4 separate regions of the Homo sapiens genome follow, and all the other regions are linked to region 3. The links come from fine-mapping of genetic effects on gene expression. A gene starts in region 3. Each other region holds a variant in brackets. All regions are shown on one strand. Distances are from middle to middle.

Region 1 (5,148 bases), 170 kb after region 3:
AGACAAGCACAGCCCCGAAAGGCAGAGAGAAATGTGTGGGCTACTCACACTGTCCTACACATCACATGCCCCGAGTTTGCCCTAAGAACGCACCCCTCACTGATGAGATCTTAACTTTCTGGAAGCCCCAAGAGCTGTCCCTCAAGGGCAGCGATGGTGGGGGTCTCAGTGTGGTGCAGTGCCAGGCAGGGCCCCGGGCTCCCCGCCCTCCTGTGCCTCATGGCCAGTGTTCATTATTCTCAGTCCTCCCCTAGCTCTGCCCTCCTGGAGCGGACAGCATTTTCCAGGACAGGTTTCAGAGACAGAAGGACAAGGGCCTGCTGGGGAAGGGACAGCGGCTCCAGATGCTGGCCTTGACATGGAAAAAGCCTGGATGTCCCAGATGTGGGTCATCTCTTCAAGGAATTTGTCATCTCCTGGGGGACTCCAGGGCCCAGAGTACATCTGCTTCAAAGGTGGGTTCCCTGTGGCATTGCCATGTCCTTTGCATTTGGCAAACTGTCTGGTCCTAGCTAAAAAAATGAAACACACACAGGCTGTTTCTAAGCAGACCCTGCAGCCTCTCCCTGCCCCGACCTTGGATGAGCGAGAAGCACGGAGTCGGTGTGCTGCGGGGCACCCTTCCAGCCCGGTTAGGGAACCTCCAGTAGTGGGTTCTGTGGTTGTGGTCAGTGACTTGCCGCCTTGTCCTGTAAGAGGACTGTGCTTCTCCTTCCCACTGACTTCAGGCTTGACCCTATGACGATGAACGGTGAGCAGGAGCCGCATGTGCGCCTTCTGAGCAGAGGCTCAGAGAGCCACCCGGTGCCTTCCCTCTCCTCTAGCGGACTGGGCTCCGCAGCCTGGTGCCCAAGCAATGCTGACTCACCGCTTGCGTATAGACGAGCGAGAAACAAGCTTCTGTGGTTACAGCATGCTGGGATTAGGAGTTTTGCTATGGCAATGTGAGCCAGAAAGAGCTGACTAATACAACCCTGTGCACCCGGTGGTTTGTCCAGACAAGGATGGCGAGAATGTTTTCTGGAAAAGTCTGCAGCTGTGCGTCATCTCCTTCACAGACTCAGATCCCTTCTTCCCAAGAAAGGCACGTTGAGCAGCCCTTGACGCAGAGTCAGGGAGGGCCAGGCAAGCCTTTCCTTAGCGCCCAGAGCTAGGCACAGAGGGCGGGGCTCGCAACCGGCTCTGCAGGCTGCAAGGGGAGACATCTTTATCACTCCCAGCTCCTGCTTCCCCTCCACACACATGCACGCACCAACCCACACACCACACATATACACCACATGTACACACACACACACCCATACACCTCCCCACGCCCACACATGCACACACCACCCCACACACCACACACATACGCCACATGTAGACACACACCACCCACACCCCCCACACATGCACACACATACACACACCACACACATACACCACATGTACACACACACCACCCACACCCTCCACGCCCACACATGCACACACATACATACACTACACACATCACCCCACATACCACACACATACACCACACACCACCCCACATACCACACACGTACACCACACATGGACACGCACACACCACATACACTCCCACACATGCACACATATACACACTACACACACCACCCAACACACCACACACACGTACACACATACACACTACACACATCTCATCTCATACACACCACTCACATCACACACACCACACACACATTACACACACCCTACCCCACATACTGTACATATACACCACATGTACACACATCTCACACCACACACGTGCACACACATACACACTACACACACACCACCTGTGCACACACACCACACACACATGCAAACACACACACTACATGCACCCCACCCCACACATCACACACATACACCACATGTACACACATACACACACTACACACATCCCACCCACACCACACACACCACTCACACCACACACACGACCCCAAACACCACACACATACACACACACTACACACATCTCACACACACCACTCACACCACACATACACACACACTACACACACACCATCCCACACACCATGCACATACATCACATGTACCTACATACACACATACCACACATACTACACACACTACCCACACCACACACACTACACATATATCCCTCATACCACACCCATATACACACATGTGAACACACACAGAAATATGAGGACTCCACATGCAGCAAAAAATGAACAAGCAGGAAACACATTTACTGAAACACCAAGGAGGAGACATTTGATAACAGAATGCCAGGAATTTGGAGTCTCCTAGTTCCAGAAATCTAAGTCCCTGAGTGAGGCCTTCTGAAGCTGTGCTTGCATTTATAAATCCTCCACAGCCATTCTGTGTATATCAGGCACACTTCTGGCCAGGTTCCCCCGAGTTAGCTCTTGATATATTGAAACTCTTATATGTGGTCATCTTGGGCGACAGGAAGAGCCACACAGGTCAAAAGCAAGGCTTATAGATGGTCCACCAAGCTCTGCGTGGTGCCAGGTCTGTGGAAACAGTCAGGCACGTGGCCAAGACAGGGACCTCTGGGGTCTGCTGAGGTCAGAGCAAGAGTGAGGGGTTAAGAGGTCAGAGCCTCTGAGGTTGCACCCAGCCTATCTGTACCACCAAGGATCAGAGATAGACCAGCGGGCATCGTGGGTGTGCCCCTACCCTGTGCAGTCTCGCAGGCCCGGCTCTTAGAAGGGTCCCACGTTTCATGCTTGGCTGTCACCATCTTGAAATTCTTAATAATTTTGGAAACCTAGGTTTGATTTTACACTGGGCTCTGCAAATAGCCAGTCTCATCCATCCAGTGAAGGCTGAGCCATACCCTGGGGCGGCTCATGCTGGCCACAGAAAACTGGCCATTCACAGAGGGGAGGACCTGCCCAGAAAATCCAGATGGCAGCTGGCCCAGTCTCACTGGTCCTGGGCCATGCTGTGATTTGGAGAAGGGCAGGCCTGTCAGCTGTGGGTAATGGGAGGGACATTGTCTTTACTGGGAACAGAAAGAGGAACAGCAAATG[C/T]AAACATGTTTTATTAGGAAGAACTTCAGCAAGTTCTCAAAATTGTTTCACCTGACCACATAGTGCCCCATGGCCCCAGCTTCCTCCATACTCTCACCAGCTCTGAGAACCAAACCCAGAAGAGGCCAGAGAAGGAAACGAGAGATGTGAGAAGGAAAAAGAGCCTCAGACCCTGCTGCCACAAGGGACTTCCATGCTGGTGAGATGACCCAGAGGGCTGGGGCTGCCATGCTGCCTTCAGCTCTGCTCCTTCTCTGTGTCCCAGATGAGCAGGGCAGGTCCTGGGTGCAGGGAGGTCTGCTCTGGCGGGTCAGGGTGAGGCAGGCATGAGAAAAGGCTGGCGAGGGGCAAGAGGAAGAAATGATATCAAGAAAGAGGGAGTGAGGTGTGCATAGAAGCTTCTCAAATCTCCTTATCGGGATAGGGTGGGGATTAAACGGTAAACTGCTTCCCACACAGTAAGCCCTAAGTAGATTTGGCAACTTTAATCATTATTACCGTCATTATTAAGATCAGGAATGCCACCACGATCCATCAGAGAGAAGGGGGAATAGGGGACAGAAAACCAGTACTTACTAGGCTAATCACTGTAATACATATCTTGTTTCCCACTATCTCATTTAATTCTTATTGCAATCCTGATGAAAACAAGAGACCGAAGCTCGCTCTTAGAGGTGCAAATAATTTAGATTAAACAGTTTATAAAAGGCACAGTCAAGGTCCAAACCTAAATACTTTTATTTCCAAGATCATTGCTCCTTCTCTAATTCAATGTCAATGTCTGCTGCGCCTCCTTGTAAAGCTTCACTTACATATCTGGAGGCATATGCTGCATCCCCACGTGGGAACCCTGGGTGTCCCCACAGGTCTGGGCTGGCCCCAGGGCTGCTACTTAATGGGCCCCCAGAAGGGTGAGACAGCTGGGAACCTGTGGTCAGCCCTGGTCCGAGAGTTTCCGTAAATGATGGTGGAGGGAGAAAGTCAGTTTCTTTGCAAGGCTGGGTAGGCGGGAAGCTCCGTAAAAGATGGTGGGGGTGGAGGTGGAGGAGGCTGCCCATGTTGGCTCAGAGTCAGGGTCTGGACTGAATATCCAAGGAGAGGGAGGCTCTGTGGTGGGATTCAGTGTGTGCCCCACAATGTTTTTGCTCCTTGTGGAATTAGCCCCAAATCATTAAGAGAGAAGTTTAAGGACCTGAAAGAGCAGGCTAACAGCGCCCCCAGAGCCTGAGCTGAGAGCAGCAGCGATTTCAGGAGAGGACTGGGTGTGCCCACCCCTTCCTTGCTCCTAAGCCTGTGCCTGGCAGGCAGTTAGCTCCCTGGGAAAGCTCGTGGACCTCAACACTGTGGACATTTGGGGCTGCGTTATTCTGTGTGTTGGGGGCTGTCCTGTGCATTGTAAGATGTTTAGAAGCATCCCTGGCCTCTACCCACCAGATGCCAGCAGCAATTCCCCACCCTAAGTTGGGACAACCAAAAATATCTGTAGTCATTACCAAATGTTCTCCCGCCCGCCCCCCTGCCCCCCCGCCCCCTCCCCGCCCCCCTGCCCCCCAGGTGAGAATCACTGCTTCAGAGAGGCAGACAGCTTTCTAATGCAGAATAGGTCAGTGGGCCACTCGAGCCTGCTTTCTGGGAAATAAAGTGAGAAAACGTGAGATAAGAAAATGAAGATGCAAAAGATAAAGTTTTCCTGTTTTTTTTTTGAGACAGAGTCTCACTCTGTCGCCCAGGCTGGAGTGCAGTGGTGCGATCTCGGCTCACTGCAACCTCCACCTCCTGGGTTCAAGTGATTCTCCTCCCTCAGCCTCCTGAGTAGCTGGATTACAGGCACCCACCACCACGCCCGGCTAATTTTTTGTATTTTCGATAGGGACAGGGTTTCATCGTGTTGGTTAGGCTGGTCTCAAACTCCTGACCTCAGGTGATCCACCTGCCTCGGCCTCCCAAAGTGCTGGGATTATCGGCATGAGCCACCACACCTGGCCAGATTTTTCTTTTAATTCACAATAAAAATATAGCAAAGCCTCTCCATCAGTGGATGGCAATATATTACCTAGATGGATGGGTGGGTAGATGAAAGATGGATGGATGGATAGATAGTAGATAGATA
Region 2 (5,148 bases), 66 kb after region 3:
GCCATGTTGGCCAGGCTGGTCTTGAACTCCTGACCTCAAGAGATCTGCCCGCCTCAGCTTCCCAAAGTGGTGTTTGTTATGTGTCAATAACAAGTCTATTTAAAAAATCATTTCCCCACGCTGGGCATGGTGGCTCATACATATAATGCCAGCACTTTGGGAGGCCGAGCGGGTGGATCTCTTGAGGCCAGGAGTTCAAGACCAGCCTGGCCAACATGGTGAAACTCTGTCTCTACAAAACAACAACTGCCAAAAAATTAGCCAGGCATGGTGGCACATGCCTGCAGTTCCAGTTACTGGGGAGGCTGAGGTGGGAGAATCACTTGCCTGGGAGGCAGAGGTTGCAGTGAGCTGAGATCACACCACTGCATTCCAGCCTGGGTGACAGACTGAGACCCCACTTCAAAAAAAGAATTTATCCTAGCAATTAATGTTGGAGGGGAGCCCTGCTTCTCATGGACAATAGACACTAATCAATCAATGGGAACTCCTTGGACTCTACTACATAGTAATTTTTAATATAATACAAATAAGTTGATGCCCTACCCCTTTACAAAAAGAGTTTTAAGTGGATCACAATAAAACATCATGCACAATCATAAAGTAGTATTAGGAGGAGGTTGTCAGCACTATATAAGAAGGAAAACTTTCCTTACATACATATGTCACTCTGCTGGGCACCACAGAAGGTTTAAGGCTGGCTCCTGCTCTCAGGGTGCTCACACAGCCAAGCTGATGACATTGAGCCTTTACTAGTAGTAAATAGATACTTGCCTTTAAATATGTTGGAACTTGTTGGAATGGGTTCCCACTCTCAATTTGGTGATCAATAAACTCAAAGGAAGTAACAGTCTTCATGGACTACATCCTACATCTCGTGTGTGGGTAATTGAAATGGAAAATACCACATCTGATCAATATTTTGAACAATCTGAGCTCCCAATCTTAAAGCTTTCAAAATGAGTATTTATACCTTTATAGGATGGTATAAACTTGGAGAGACCCACATATCTAGTTGCCAGGAAAATTTTGTAATTGATTTGTAATTATGTTCCTCTGCTTGCATAAACTTTTTTTTTCTTTTTTTTTTTGAGACAAGGTCTTGCTTTGTTGCCCAGGCTAGAGTGGAGTGCAGTGGTGTGATTTCGGTTCACTGCAGTCTCTGCCTCCCAGGCTCAAGCAATTCTCCTGCCTCAGCCTCCTGAGTAGCTGGGATCACAGGCGCACACCACCATGCCCAGCGAATTTTTGTATTTTTAGTAGAGACAGATTTTACCATGTTGGCCAGGCTGGTCTTGAACCCTTGACCTCAAGCGGTCCACCGCCTCGGCCTCCCAAAGTGCTGAGATTACAGGTGTGAGCCACCATGCCTGGCCTTGCATGCAGTTTTTACTGGGCTAAATTGACAACATCAAATAGCACAGAATTTCTTCTAGTTTACTTCAAACTGTGATGGCTTTAAAATTTCTAGACTGGGATAGTTGTTATACATTTTTTCTCCTTCTCTATATCCTAGGAATTCAGAGACCTGGAGGGAGAAGACACATGGACTGTCAGATCTAGAGACCTGCTTCCTTCAATAGCTGATTTTCTTTCATTTGTGTCAGAAACAGGCAGCATGGCACAGAGCCATGCACCTAAAACTTTATTGTGCATATTTATTCCTAGAGATCTTGTTAAAATGCAGATTCAGATTCAGCCAATCTAGGGTCAGGGCTTTCTATTGTAATAAGTTCCAAGGTAATGCCAATGCTGCTGGTCCATGGACTGCACACTTTGATGAGAAGTTTAGTAAGGATATAGAGGAAAGAATACTACACGTGTAGTAGTAATTTCTGGCTTTTAGTATCAGCTCTGCCATTTACCAGCTTGCTTTCTTGGACAAGTCATTTTTCCTCTCTGGATTTTAGTTTCCTCAAATATAAGCTGGGTGATAGAGGAGGAGGTTGGGTTAGGTTATTTCAAAGCTTGCATTCATAGACTCTTCAAAGTGATGTTTTGATTAAAAAACTCCACCTATAGGATCACGTACAGCTTTTCAAAGGACTAGCAGGTGAACTGGCATTATCAAAGCAGAAAATATAGGGGCTGGAGCAGGAAGGCATGGCAAAGTCAGAGAAAAGGAAGGTGAGCCATAATAACTTCTTATGGCAAATATAACACTTTGATTATTTCAGAGTGATGGATTTTGAATTAAAACTGTTATCCTGAGAGAGGCTACTATTTTTCCCAACAACTATCTTAGGGGGAGACCTGCATTACTGAAAACTGAGTTGCATAAGAAACTTGAGTGAAGGAAGCAATGGATATGTTAGTGCTTTGAAATAAGCAAATGCTTACAGGGGCTGTGAGGGAATCATGGCTGGAGGGAAGCTTTCTGGAGCCATGAGGGAGTCTGATTTGAAAACAGCAGTTCATCTCTGCTGCAGACCATTTATCTAATTTCAGACAAATTGGCCAGAAATTCAGGTATTTGGCCACTGCTAGCAGATGTAACAGGGAGAAATGCAGTCTCCTACAAGGGTTAGGAGAGCAAGGTGCCAGGGGTCACCCAGGGGCATAAATAGGCAAGGAGAAGGAGGGGGTGAAAAAGGAACACAGATGATGTAAGTGAATGAATGAAGCTTCTGACCATCTGAGCCTCTGGCGGCAGCCCTTCCCCAAGAGCTCACGCATCTCTGTTTTGAGCAGGAAACAGGATCAGACAGAAAGGGCTCCCCAGACTCACAGATACAAGCTAGTTTCTCATTAAGTCCCAAAGCAAAGTCAGGGGAGTGGAGAAAACTCCTGGTGCTGGCGCCTCTTCCAACGTTAGGTTGAGGAATACAGGAGATGTTTACCTTATGCAGGACGTGGTCGTTGAAGTCAGGGCCAGCTCCTCCCTGGTAGGAATCGGGTCTCTGCAGGTCCATGCCAGGCTTGGAGCTCGCCGCTCCGGCTCTCCCTGCGCTCTGCGTCAGCGCTTCCAGGAGCTCGGTTCGAGCTCCGCTGGGTGCGGCAGGCTTGGGTCTGAGCTCTGCGGGCCGGGCCGCATCCGTTTTCAGCACTGGACAGTTCCCCGCAGCGGCCGCGGCGCGGTACCAGGCGGGCAGGCGGCCACGTTCTTCCAGGACTGAG[C/A]GTTTCAGCACCAGGAACAGCGACTCCGCCGTTGTGCGCCCGGGACCAGAGTTCTGAGATCCTGTCCGCTCCAATCCCTGCCTCTTAGGACTCCAGGATGCTGGCAGGGACGCAAGATTTGGGTCCGGCTGGTGATCCCTGCGTATTTCATTCAGCTACCGGACTCCGGAGGCTCAGCACCCGGCTGCGTTCTCAGGGCATTGCGGTCCCAGGAGCTCACCGTTCCTGATCCCGAGCGAACGGGCATCTCCGTCACCACGCAGCTCAGCGCAGCGCAGCTCTCCTCACACGTTTGCAGAGGCGAAGTCCTGCGGCGCTGGCGGCGCTTCTGTTTTTGTCCCTGGACAATTCTCTCCAGGATGTATGAGATAAATAGAGCTTCTAAGTCTGAGGTCGACAGTAGATGGGTCTTAGGTGTCCCCAAAGTCCCTGAAATATGCAAAATTCTGTTTACCTGCGTTTTCCTAGGGAGAAGGTCCAGGGCTTTGATCACATTCTCTCCAGCACACATGACCGCAAGAAGTTAAGGACAATGGGCTCAGGAGAGGCAGATGGTGGTTTGGTTAGGAGCACAGGCTCCAGGATTCAAATCTCGATTCTGAAAATTATTAGTCGTGCAAACTCGGGCAAATTAATCTTTCCTAAGTGTCCACAAAATGGAGATAATATTATAATAGTACCTGCCTCATGGTTTTGTTCTGAGTATTTAATGAGTTAATTCATGTAAAAAGCCTAGAACAGTGCCCAGCGTGTACTAAGAACTCAATAAATGTGAGCTACTATGCTCTCCTGGCAGGGGATGAAGAGCTCTGGCTACTTCTCCTATACGTCAGGGGAGTCCTGCTGCTGCGACCTTTGATTGGCAAAATTGCATCATCACATGGAATATGAGAGCGTGAGGCTGACCACCATGGGAACTGGAGGCTGAGACTGTGGCCCCTGGGATTATTATCAGATTACTAAGGACAAGTCCTAGTACCAGCCACGGGCCCTTGGAGTCAATATCAACATGGAAGGAAAGAGCCAGGCTTAGGGTTAAAAGAGTGCGTTTTACTGCTGGGTTTCACTCCTTTTTGGCTGAGTTGTGTGAACCAGATCACTCGTGTTCCCTGGGATTACTTATGTTTTCTCATCTGCAAAATAGGTAGAGTAATCTATGCCCACTTTATTGGGTTTGGGGGAAGAGTGAGACAATGTACATGAAAAGTCTTTATTTTCTTTTAAATTGTAAAGTAAATTTCATTTATAAGGTGTTATTATTGCTGGAATCACTATACTGTAGATACTCAATGAACATTGATTAAATGAACAAAGCTAGGGAACCAATGTGTTTGTTTTATGAGATTCTCACTGGGCTGATTTTTTTTGTTTTTGTTTTTGTTTGTTTGTTTGTTTGTTTTCAGCCTGTGACAAATACATAACATCCAATGGTTGGGGTTCTTAATGTGAGGTGGATAAATGGATGTTAGGGGAACTTTGCAACATTGATAACATTACACAAAATTTTGCTTCTGTGACTTTTTCTGGGGGAGAGGCAATCTCCAGAAGAAGAAATGAATCCCATAGATTTTATTAAGTTCTCAAAGTTGTCTATACTCAAAAAAAGTACAGAACGGATAGCTTAGACTCGCTCATCTTAACTTTCTCCTGAGCTTCCTCACCAACCCTGACTATTATAGATAAGAAGATTCTAGAGGCTTTGCCTGGAACCTCACATTCCTTGGAAGGGTCACTCCTCAGAGTCTTGTTTGGAGTTCTGAAGCTTCAGAAACATGATTCTGTTTGTTCAGGTTTATAGAGCAAATAGCAGAGGATCTGAACCAATCCAGAATTGATGATGGAAGACTTTCATGAGAAATGATGTTTAAGCTGAGATCTGAAGGAAAAGTGGGCATTAGTCGAAGAGGGTGGTGGTGGTGGAGTGATTCCAGGCAAAGCGATCGATACATGCAGAGGCTTTAAGGTGTGAAGAGCTGAGAAAAGACCAGTGTGGCTAGAGTCCTGAGAAAGATGGGAGAAGGGTAACGGGAG
Region 3 (5,148 bases):
TGGGCTATACTGACAGGAAAGGGAAGTGTCAATATATTGGACAAGGATTCCCACCCAAGGGAGTCTATCAGAATCTGCTGGGGGTGGGGCATGGTCATTTGCATACTCTATAATGAATATTGTTTGGGTTTTTTTTTTTGTGTCACAACATTTATTTGGAAGTTTCTTTCTTTCTTTCTTTCTTTTTTTTTTTGAGATGGAGTTTTGCTCTTGTTGCCCAGGCTGGAGTGCAATGGCGAGATCTTGGCTCACCACAACCTCCACCTCCCAGGTTTAAATGATTCTCCTGCCTCAGCCTCCTGAGTAGCTGGGATTATAGGCATGCACCACCTCGCCTGGCTAATTTTTTATTTTTAGTAGAGACGGGGTTTCTCCATGTTGGCCAGGCTGGTCTTGAACTCCCGACCTCAGGTGATCCGCCCGCCTCAGCCTCCCAAAGTGCTGGGATTACGGGCGTGAGCCACCGCGCCTGACTGGAAGTTTCTAATGACATTTTATGTTTATTAAAAGGTTGCATGAGGCCGGGTGCAGTAGCTCATGTGTGTAATCCTAGCATTTTGGGTGCCCAAGGTGGACGGATCACCTGAGGTTGGGAGTTTGAGACCAGCCTGACCAACAAGGTGAAACCCCATCTCTACTAAAAATACAAAAAACTAGCCAGGAGTGGTGGCACACGCCTGTAGTCCCAGTTACTTGGGAGGCGGAGACAGGAGAATAGCTTGAACCCAGGAGGTAGAGGTTGCAGTGAGCCGAGATTGCATCACTGAACTCCAGCCTCGGTGACAGAGCGACACTCTGTCTCAAAAAAAAAAAAAAAAAAAAAAGGTTGCATGAATTAGGGAAGGTTGAAATTTATACTGAAGTGGGGAGATGTGTAGTTGGAAGTTCTTTCAGCAGAAACCTCCCACATGGGACATGTGGCTGCAGATCGGCATCCCGGGGTTGCTGTGGGTAGTGCGGGCAGGAGTACCAAGGAGGTAACCTGTGGAGGGGGCGTGGCCCTCTCCTTTACTGTCTGGCTCTGCTCTGCTCATCTTCCCCAGGGACACGCAGGAATGGTGGAGAGGAGCACTTTGTCCCACTGTTCTCCAATCTTGGATAACAGGGGTCTAGATCCAATGCTGGAATTTCCCAGCTGCTGGTTAGGTGGCTTAATGGGTTAAGCAGGGACTAGGTTTGAATTATTTTTGAGGCTCTGAAATTGACAGTGGAGCCCAAAGGCATTCCTGTTGTGGGCATGGGGTACTGGCATTAGTTAACTCTGGTGGAGAGGCAGGGGTGGCTGAGCAGAAGGGGTATGAAGGATGGGTCTTGATTTGTAAATGGCCTACTGTGTGACTTTAGGAAGATTCCTTAACCTTTCTGTGGCATGGTTTCCATAGTGGGTAGAAGGAGGAGGGATAATGTCTTTGAGGTATTTCTAGAGTCTGTTAATGGCTAGGGCCCATCATCGTGGTGAATCACCTAAGACCCAGGGAAGAGTGGCCCAGGGTGGGAACTGTCTGCCTGTGGGCCACATCACCCCTAGTCTGGTCCAAGGAGCTCCTGCCAGGCTTTCTCAGAGGGTCCTGGACTCACTCCCCTGGGGCAGGCCCGGGGAGGCTGGGGACCAACTCTCCGGCCAATGCCGCTTGGCCAGGGAACAGATGAAGGGGTGGGGGATAGGAGCTTTCTGGAGCCTGCACTCCTCCCTGGCTCCTGGGTCCCAGCCCTGGAGCAGGAAGGAGGGAGGGAGGGCCAGTCTTTGTGTACTTTACAGATCACAGCTGCCTTGAGCAAACGATGCCAGCTACCCACCCAGCTCGGTGATTCCACCAAACACAAACAGCTGCCTAGCCTGGCCACCTCCTAGGCAAACAACCCAGCTGGTTTGCAGGGCAACAAGGTCAGGCAGTCCCCCTCAGCCTGGGGCCTGGCCAACAGCAGCTCCTCCTCTCCGAGGGTGCAGGGGCCCATTTCCTGCCACAAGCCCACACAGGACGCCTATCTCAACGGCTCTGGGCGGATGACTTGCAGGGTGGCTTCCCCCGAAACACTGGGGTGGAGGCTGAGGCTCCCAGCAAGGGTGAGCCCTGGTGTCGGGGAGGAAACCGAGGCCCAGAGAGAGGCAGGTCTCCTTCAAGGCCATGCAGCGGAATCCAGGACAGCCCTCACTCCATCCCCAACCCTGCAGAGGAAGAGTGGAAGCTCTAGGCTCCCTCAGCAGTTCTTTCAGTTTCTGGTACCCGCTCACTCCAAGGACACAGATGGAAGGCGACAGACCAGTCCACTGCTGTCCCTACCTGTTTCCATACAGGACACCCCTGTAGAGGGAGCAAGCCCCAGAGAGCAGCCCTGGAGCTCTCTCAAGTGCGGGATGCGAAAGACCAACCACTGAAATCTTTCTCAGGTTCGAAAAATTCCCAAGTGACCTGCAGGCCGGCTGGCAACATCCTTCTGGGAGGAGCGGCTTCCGACTGCAGGGAGGAAGGTGGGAGGCAGTGCCTCCAGCGGGTGGAATGGGAGGGGAGCAGCTGGGGGACATCAGGCCTTAAACCTGGATGTCAGATCTCAACTAAGAGCTTAGCTCGGAAAATGGCATTAACGCCAGTTCCTCTGCCAGCAGGGGACGTCCTCTCCGAGTCTCCGTTCGGTCCCCATCTCCCAGCCCTTCCCAGCCTGAGCCCCGAGAGTTGCGCGCTTAACCCTCACCAAGAAGCATGGGCTCCCGGGGGCTCATATTTGCCAGAGTGTGGCAGAAGAGAACTGAGTTGGGGCCGGCGGGGGGATCACTCAGTTTTTGCGATCTTCCGCGACCCGCCCCCACCAAGCCAGCAGAGACACCTAGAGCTTGGGACGGCCCCAGAGGCTGTGTCCTGACCCTCTCTCCCTCCCTCCTCTGGGAGACGCAGCTGCCTGGGGGAAGGGCTGAGTCCAACCCAGACGCAGCCAGGAAGGGGCTAGCGCCGAGGAGGGCGGGGGTCTCACGGAAGAGGCCCACCCACCTTGCCCGTGAGGTCGTAGCTCGGACTGCAGGGCGGGGAGCGCTCGGGGGCCTCGCCATCCCGGGTGGCAACGGCGCCTGGCGTGCCCGTCATGTCCCTGGACGAGAGGTGAGCAGTGCCGGCCCGCAGGCGAAGGAGAGCGCAGGAACGGCCCCACCCCCGCCCCGCCCACTCCTCCCCTCCCTCGACCGGGACCCCTCAGGCTCCTCCCTCCGTCCCGTCGCCCCCTCGACGACACCGGCTCGGACCTTGCTGTTCCCTGAGGGCACGCAGAGCCGCAGGGTCTGCGTGAAGGGGCGGGCAGCCTCCCTGAGCAACACCGGCTCGGCTCCGTGCGCTTCGGACATGAGCCACATCCAGCCCCGGGACCGGTCCCCTGTGGTCGCTTGCTTGCCCCTGGGGGAGCGGGCCGCGGGGACCCCGTCTGCTGCGGAAGAGTTCCCGTAGTCGCTGCGCACCGCGACAGCAGGCGGCGCCCGAGCCCCGGGCCGTGGGCTGTCCCCAGGTGGCGAGGCGGGGAGCTGGGGACCCCTGGGCTGCGCCTCCGCCGATGGCCCCGAGACACTTCCTCATCTGTTAAGTCACCCGGCCCGAGCTCATCTGAATATAGTTTTGTTTACCAACCCGTACTCGCCTTGCAGCACATGTACGCTGCGGTGTTTTGGGGCCTCTGCCTGGTGCGGGGACTTTGACCCTTTAGTATGGATCACCTCTCATTTCCCCCGGCCTGTTGGTTGTGCCCAGAATGTCCCACCAGGGGAGAGCTTTCGCAAGAGGGCTGCGCAGCACACATCTCCCAGTGGACCGCTCCTGAAGGCGGGGCCGGCCTTATTAACCCATGACACTCACCCTGGCCCCGAGGAGGAGCCAAATAAATTCATGAAGTCGTAGATCATTTTGAGCAGAGCTGCCAGGATATCCCAGGCACCCGGCAGCTCCTGGTGACAGAGAGTGGGGAGTGCAGCTGGGGTTGCCGGTAGCAGAGCTCAGGGGCTCTGTGGCCTGGGCCGACCTTTCAATTACCCCCATCTCCACATTCTATAAGCAGCTTCAAGTTACCAAGGAACAGGGCGGGTGCATTACAGCGGGACGGTTTGAGGGATGTGTAGGGAGGGGAGAGCTGGAGAGGGGTACCTGCACTTTTTTTTTTTTTCAGACAGAGTCTCACTCTGTCGCCCAGCCTGGAGTGCAGTGGTGCGATCTCGCCTCACTGCAACCTTTGCTTCCCGGGTTCAAGCTATACTCCCGCCTCAGTCTCCCGGAGTAGCTGGGATTACAGGTGCGCGACATCAGGCCCGGCTATTTTTTCTTTTTGTATTTTTAGTAGAGACGGGGTTTTGCCATGTTGGCCAAGCTGGTCTCAAATTCCTGACCTCAGGCGGTCCGCCCACCTCAGCCTCCCAAAGTGCTGGGATTACAGGCGTGAGCCACTGCGCCCGGCCTGCAATTCTTAACTTAGGTGTGGAGGTGAGGAGCAGGGGTAGACGTGGCTTATGGGCCACCATAGGCCTGTGGGGACTGACTTTGTACGCCAGCCTCCAGCCCTGTATTTTCTGACATCAGCTGGAGGTATTTTCTGTCAGCTGGGAGAAGCGCCCAGAGTGGGGACAGAGGTGATCTCCAGTAGAGTAAAGAGCTTGGGTTACCTCTTCTGGAGGTGAGCGTGCTATAACCTCAGCTGGGCATAGGGCGGGACTCAAACAGGGAGCCTCAGACTGGAGTGTGGAGGCTGCGCAGCACACTACAGAGGCGTGGTGTTGGTTGCTATTTGGATGCCAGAGGCTCTTGCTGCAAATAATGCCGAGGTTTGCTCAATGCCGTGGGCTCCCGGAGACGGAGTCTCACTCTGTCGCCCAGGCTGGAGTGCAGTGGCGGGATCTTGGCGCATTGCAGCCTCTGCCTCCCAGGTTCAAGCAATTCTCCTGCCTCAGCCTCTGGAGCAGCTGGGACTACAGGTGCACGCCACCACGCCTGGCTAATTTTTGTATTCTTAGTAGAGAACTTCACCATGTTGGACAGGCTGGTTTGGAACTGCTGACCTCAGGCGATACGCCTGCCTTGGCCTTCCAAATTGCTGGGATTACAAGCGTGAGCCACCGCACCTGGCCTGGTATGCGGTCTTTTCTCTCCCCTTCCCTCCCCTCCCCTCTCCTCCCTTCCTCCC
Region 4 (5,148 bases), 48 kb after region 3:
CAAGACTCCGTCTCAAAAAAAAAAAAAAAAATGGCATAACATAAGGCCTTAGATCAGAGCGTAACTGTGCCATTTCAACTATTGTGCATAAAGTGGATTTATTTCAGAGTTTATTTCAAGCAGCCAGCACTACCCAGAATGTATAAGTATATGCTTATGTTGGATAGAAACGGATTCATCTTTTCTGGTAATATAAAATCATAGATCCCAGTGAAGATTATTGCCATGAAACTTCTGACATTAAGCTAGACGCACAGGGAAGACTAGAATTTAGCTCAATTTGGCTTGGCTGGAGGAATTGGGCTGCTTCTACCTTCATCTGGATGGTGGACATGGGCTGCTGAAGAGCAGTGAAACAGCATGGGAAGACCGATCCATTCTGATCCCTTTTGGTTGCCTTAGTCAAACTTTGAAAAAAGGTGTCTACAGGCCGGGCATGGTGGCTCACGTTTGTAATCCCAGTGCTTTGGAAGGCTTAGCCAGGAGGATCACTTGAGTCCAGGTGTTTGAGACAAGCCTGGGCAACGTGATAAACCCATCTAAGGTTACTGGGGTTTCCCTCCCTTGGTTTTTGAATTATTAATTCTTAACGATTCTGGGCTAGGCATGGTGGCTTACAACTCTAATCCCAGCACTTTGGGAGGCCAAGGCAGGTGATTGATTGAGCCCAGGAGTTCGAGAGCAGCCTGGGCAACACAGGGAGACCTACAATAATTAATTAATTAGCTGGGTGTGGTGGCGCACGCCTGCAGTCCCAGCTACTCCAGAGGCTGAGGTAGGAGGATTGCTTGAGGATTGCTATCTCTACAAAAAAATTAAAAAAATTAGCCAGGCGTCTGTGGTCCCAGCTACTTGGGAGGCTGAGGCAGGAGGATCAGTTGAGCCCTGGAGTTCTAGGCAGCAGTGAGCTGTGATCATGCCACTGCACTCCAGCTTCGGTGACAGAACGAGACCCTGTCTCAAAAAAACGAGGAAGTGTCTACAAGAGAGAACAGATTACTGGATATACTGTTTTTATCTAAAATTCTAGCCCTCTGAATTGGTGGCAGTCTGAAAGGGACCTTTTTATGTTCTCAGAAATAGGTTGACAGTCATGAGCCAGTCCAGTCAATTCCAGAGCTGGACAGAGCAGATCTCTGCCTTGTGGTCCTGATAGGAAGTGTCTGGGTTCTCTCTGTGCAGTGCTATGACTGTAGGAGTCAGCTGCTAATCCAGCCCGGTTTGCTCAAGCCTGAGCTAGAGTTTAGAGTGCTAGAGAAGTAGCTGGGGCGAGAGGAGGGAGGCAGATATACGCAAGAGGCAGGAAAGGAAATTGTTTCATAATGTCTATAGATTTGTATCTGGGTGTCATCTCAGCCGTATCCCCGCACCCCATCATGACTTTGCTAAGGCAGAATTTGGGTGGCTGGCCAGCACGTTTATTGCAAGAGGAACCATCTTAAATATGGTTCCTCAGGTCTGAGTGAGGGTAGCATTTACTATCTTGTTATATGATTTCCAGGAAAGCACATTGTGTTAAAACAAACTCCAAGATTTCTAAGCACTCAATCCTGATTGAGTGCCTAATTATTTATAGCCATCTAAAGTTGCTGGGGCTTCCCTTCTTGGTTTTTGAATTATTAATATTTAAAGATTCCAGGCCAGGCATCGTGGTTCATGCCTCTAATCTCAGCACTTTGGGAAGCCAAGGTGGGTGATCGATTGAGCCCAGGAGTTTGAGACCAGCCTGAGCAACATAGGGAGGCCTACAAAAAGGATATCTCCACCAAAAATAAAAAATCAGCTGGGTGTGGTTGTGCACGACTGTAGACCCAGCTACTCCAGAGGCTGAGGGGGTAGGATCGCTTGAACGTAGGAAGTTGAGGCTGCAGTGAGCCGAGATGGTACCACTGCACACCAGCCTCAGGGACAGAGTGAGGCCTCATGTCAAAAAAGATTCCACTTGATAAGCCTGTAAGCTTTGGACAGCCTCCTTTTGAGAACTATGTGCATATCATTGGCTTTCAGAAGATAGTACTGTTTGAGAGTAGTTGAGGGAGAAAAAAAAACTACTGAGTTGGCAACCTCCAAAATCCATGAGTAAGATAAATTTGCACTCAAGTGAGGTGAAAGGCTACCTTTGCTTGACATCTTGAAAAATAGAGCTCAAAGCTGCTTAGCCTTGGAAAGGGGAGACTGCTGGAATCGGTTGATTTCATGTACCAATAAATTTTTTAGATTGGCAAGGACAGATACAGTGATCAGCCTTTTATTCTACCAAGTAGGCACATTTTTTTTAGCTTTTCAGTTTTCTTTGCCAAAGTCAAATATGTCTGAACCAAGTAGGTAAATTCTTATTCAATTTCACAGGAATTGGTAATTGGTCAGTTCATTGAAAAAGTTTGTTAAACCCGGAACTCATAAAAGAGATATACTGTATTTTTTCTTTTCTTTCTTTCTTTTTTCTTTTTTTTTCCAGACAGAGTCTTGCTCTGTCACCCGGGCTGGAGTGCAGTGGCGCAATCTTGGCTCACCACAACCTCTGCCTCCCGACTTCAAGCGATTCTCTTGCCTCGGCCTCCCAAGTAGCTGGGATTACAGGCATGTGCCACCATGCCTGGCTAATTTTTGTATTTTTAGTAGAAACGGGGCTTCACCATGTTGGTCAGGCTGGTCTTGAACTTCTGACCTCAGGTGATCTGCCCACCTCGACCTCCCAAAGTGCTGGGATTACAGGTGTCAGCTACCACACTCGCCCACACCTGGTTAATTTTGTATTTTTAGTAGAGACAGGGTTTCACCATGTTGGCCAGGCTGGTCTTGAACTGACTTCAAGTAATCCATCTGCCTCAGCCTTCCAAAGTGCTGAGATTACGGGTTTGAGCCACTGCGCCAAGGCTATTTTTCCTCTACATGTTTTATTTTGACTTAAAATATCTAAATGTGTAGTTATTAGCAAGTATTTTGATGTAGACCTAAAGCCTTTGCTTTGCTTACAAGTCTGCTGAAAAGTGGGGCCCATTGCCTTTCCT[G/C]AAGCACAAACCACACACACATGATCCTGGGGTTTCAGTTCCAGTTTCTTTAACATGAAGCAAGAAATTCTAGAAACTTATGAAGCCACCTGATTGCAAAATCTTTCTTCATTTTTATGCATTTCTTTCCGATATTTTACAGTTCTCTCATTCATTCCTAATTTGATAGCATTTTAAAAAGTGACAGGCTTTTATAGTGTCTTTCCAAAGCAGTTTAGTTTTTGTAGAGATAACCGTTCTCTTTTTTTTTACACTCTTATTTTATTGGTCAATAGTCTTTCTGTTTAAATTCCTTTGTATTTTCTTTTTCTTTTCTTTTCTTTTTTTTTTTTTTGAGGTGCAGTCTTTCTCTGTCACCCAGGCTGGAGTGCCGTGGCGTGATCTCAGCTCACTGCAACCTCAGCCTCCCAGGTTCAAGCAATTCTCCTGCCTCAGCCTCCCAAGTAGCTGGGATTACAGGCACCTGCCACCATGCCTGGCTAATTTTTTTGTATTTTTTAGTAGAGACAGGGTTTCACCATGTTGGCCAGGCTGGTCTCGAACTCCTGACCTCAGGTAATCCCCCTGCCTTGGCCTCCCAAAGTGCTGGGATTACAGACGTGAGCCACCACGCCCGGCCAATTCCTTTGTTTACAGGTGAATTGATTCAAGTACATCATTCTAGTTAACACGTATGACCAGCATAAGCAAGTATGGGCCCAAATGCATTCTTGTTAACCAGGTACCACAACTGTGAGAGCAGAGAAGAGCCTGCCAGCTGTGAGCACTCTGTGCCTCAGGCTTAGTCAGTGTGCTCCAGTAAGAGACTGAAGGGTATTGGTTGACCTAATAAGTTGGTTAAGTGAGGGGTTGCTTAACAAAGTTTCTATTCAACAATCCATTGTCACCATAATTTCATAAAAGAAAGGAGCTTTGAGCACCCCAAGTCTCAGGATAATAGACAGTATTTCCTAAGAAAGGACAGTTGGTAACTTTATGCCAACATCTACTGATGTGTGTGTATCGTTTCCTACACATCAGTTGGTACTTGTCAGGGGCTGGTACTTAGGTATGGACTGAGAATTGGCAGCCATGGATCCGGTTCACACTGTTCTCCAGGCATGGACCCGCTCCATCACATCTCCGCTGGTGTAGTGAGGCTTCCCCTGAGGGCCTCTAGTGACCCTCTTTGTTTGGAGGCTGATGAAGGTTGTCACTAATGAGAGCTGTGGAGCTCTCCAGTAGTTGTGAAAGGGACCCTTGAAGCAATCAGATTCCCCCTGCCCCAGCACAAGCCCCTTCCCCAAAGTAGTCCACTGTGACCATATCCTCACATGGCTCTGTCCTGAGGGTCTGCAACTCTTGCATCAAGAAAGGGTGACTTGGCTGGGTGTGGTGGCTCACGCCTGTAATCCCAGCACTTTGGGAGGCCGAGGCAGGTGGATCACCTGAGGTCAGGAGTTTGAGACCAGCTTGGCCAACATGGTGAAACCCCATCTCTATTAAAAATACAAAAATTAGCTGGGTGTGGTGGCGGGCCCCTGTAATCCCAGCTACTTGGGAGGCCGAGAAAGGAGAATTGCTTGAACCTGGGAGATGGAGGTTGCAGTGAGCCAAGATCGTGCCATTGCACTCCAGCCTGGGAGATAGAGCAAGACTCCATCTCAAATAAATAAATAAATAAATAAATAAAAATAAAATAAATAAATAAAATAAACTGAATAAATAAAAAGAAAAGGTGACTGACTCATTTGTTTTTCTGAAGGTACCTCTGAGGAGGGGCTCAGAATTAAGGGAGGGGAAAGACTGTCCCCCAAGGTCAGAAATACAGGAGGGACATTCTGCACCCTTGTGTAGTAGAAATCTGCTATGAGCAGAGCAGAGCACTGGCACTTGTTGGCATTTACATGCAGAATGCTGCCCTCTATCAATGACGCAGAGGGTTTCCACGACAAAGAAGCAACAGGTCACAGGCCCTGATCTCAGCTATACTGCCCGGTGCCTTCCCTCAGTTCAGTGGAAAGAGTTGTGAAATTCAGACGGTGCACTTATTTCAAACTTCACACAGCCTCTGCAAAATTAATAATAAGCAAAGAAGGACTGCGACCCAGAGACCTTGCATCCTTGCACTGTAACATCCAGCTGTCTGGCAGGTGGC

Which allele goes with the higher level. Alleles are on the strand shown, and positions count from the first base shown. SD is a standard deviation of normalised expression in the study named. Not every link is listed here.
As copies of C replace A in region 2, the expression in prefrontal cortex of the gene that starts at base 3,094 in region 3 goes up (moderate effect, 0.52 SD a copy in GTEx).

What was found.
Region 1: its variant is fine-mapped to the expression of RAB37 in whole blood (TOPMed, PIP 0.98).
Region 2: its variant is fine-mapped to the expression of RAB37 in prefrontal cortex (GTEx, PIP 0.91).
Region 4: its variant is fine-mapped to the expression of RAB37 in whole blood (TOPMed, PIP 0.96). The same link has a PIP of 0.9 or more in monocytes.

The regions. Positions count from the first base shown.
Region 1 is chr17:74,565,438-74,570,585 of GRCh38, reverse strand. CD300H (CD300H molecule (gene/pseudogene)) reads left to right here and starts at 3,077. Exons shown (of 4, transcript NM_001405511.1): 1 at 3,077-3,237. RefSeq lists enhancers at 270-999, 1,000-1,730. The variant C/T (reference allele first, on the strand shown) is at 3,039.
Region 2 is chr17:74,669,351-74,674,498 of GRCh38, reverse strand. It overlaps RAB37-AS1 (RAB37 antisense RNA 1), which reads left to right. Exons shown (of 2, transcript XR_007065904.1): 2 at 1-4,439. It also overlaps a transcript of RAB37 not described here. Among named protein-coding and RNA genes, the nearest start is that of RAB37-AS1, 5.7 kb to the left of the region's middle. The variant C/A (reference allele first, on the strand shown) is at 3,118.
Region 3 is chr17:74,735,202-74,740,349 of GRCh38, reverse strand. RAB37 (RAB37, member RAS oncogene family) reads right to left here and starts at 3,094. Exons shown (of 9, transcript NM_001006638.3): 1 at 2,985-3,094. The coding sequence starts at 3,077. LOC124904057 (a long non-coding RNA gene) reads left to right here and starts at 3,011. Exons shown (of 3, transcript XR_007065905.1): 1 at 3,011-3,092. RefSeq lists enhancers at 1,292-2,014, 2,379-2,468, 2,739-3,462, 3,849-3,908 and silencers at 2,939-3,138, 3,339-3,388, 3,439-3,608.
Region 4 is chr17:74,686,750-74,691,897 of GRCh38, reverse strand. It overlaps a transcript of RAB37 not described here. Among named protein-coding and RNA genes, the nearest start is that of RAB37-AS1, 12 kb to the right of the region's middle. The variant G/C (reference allele first, on the strand shown) is at 3,012.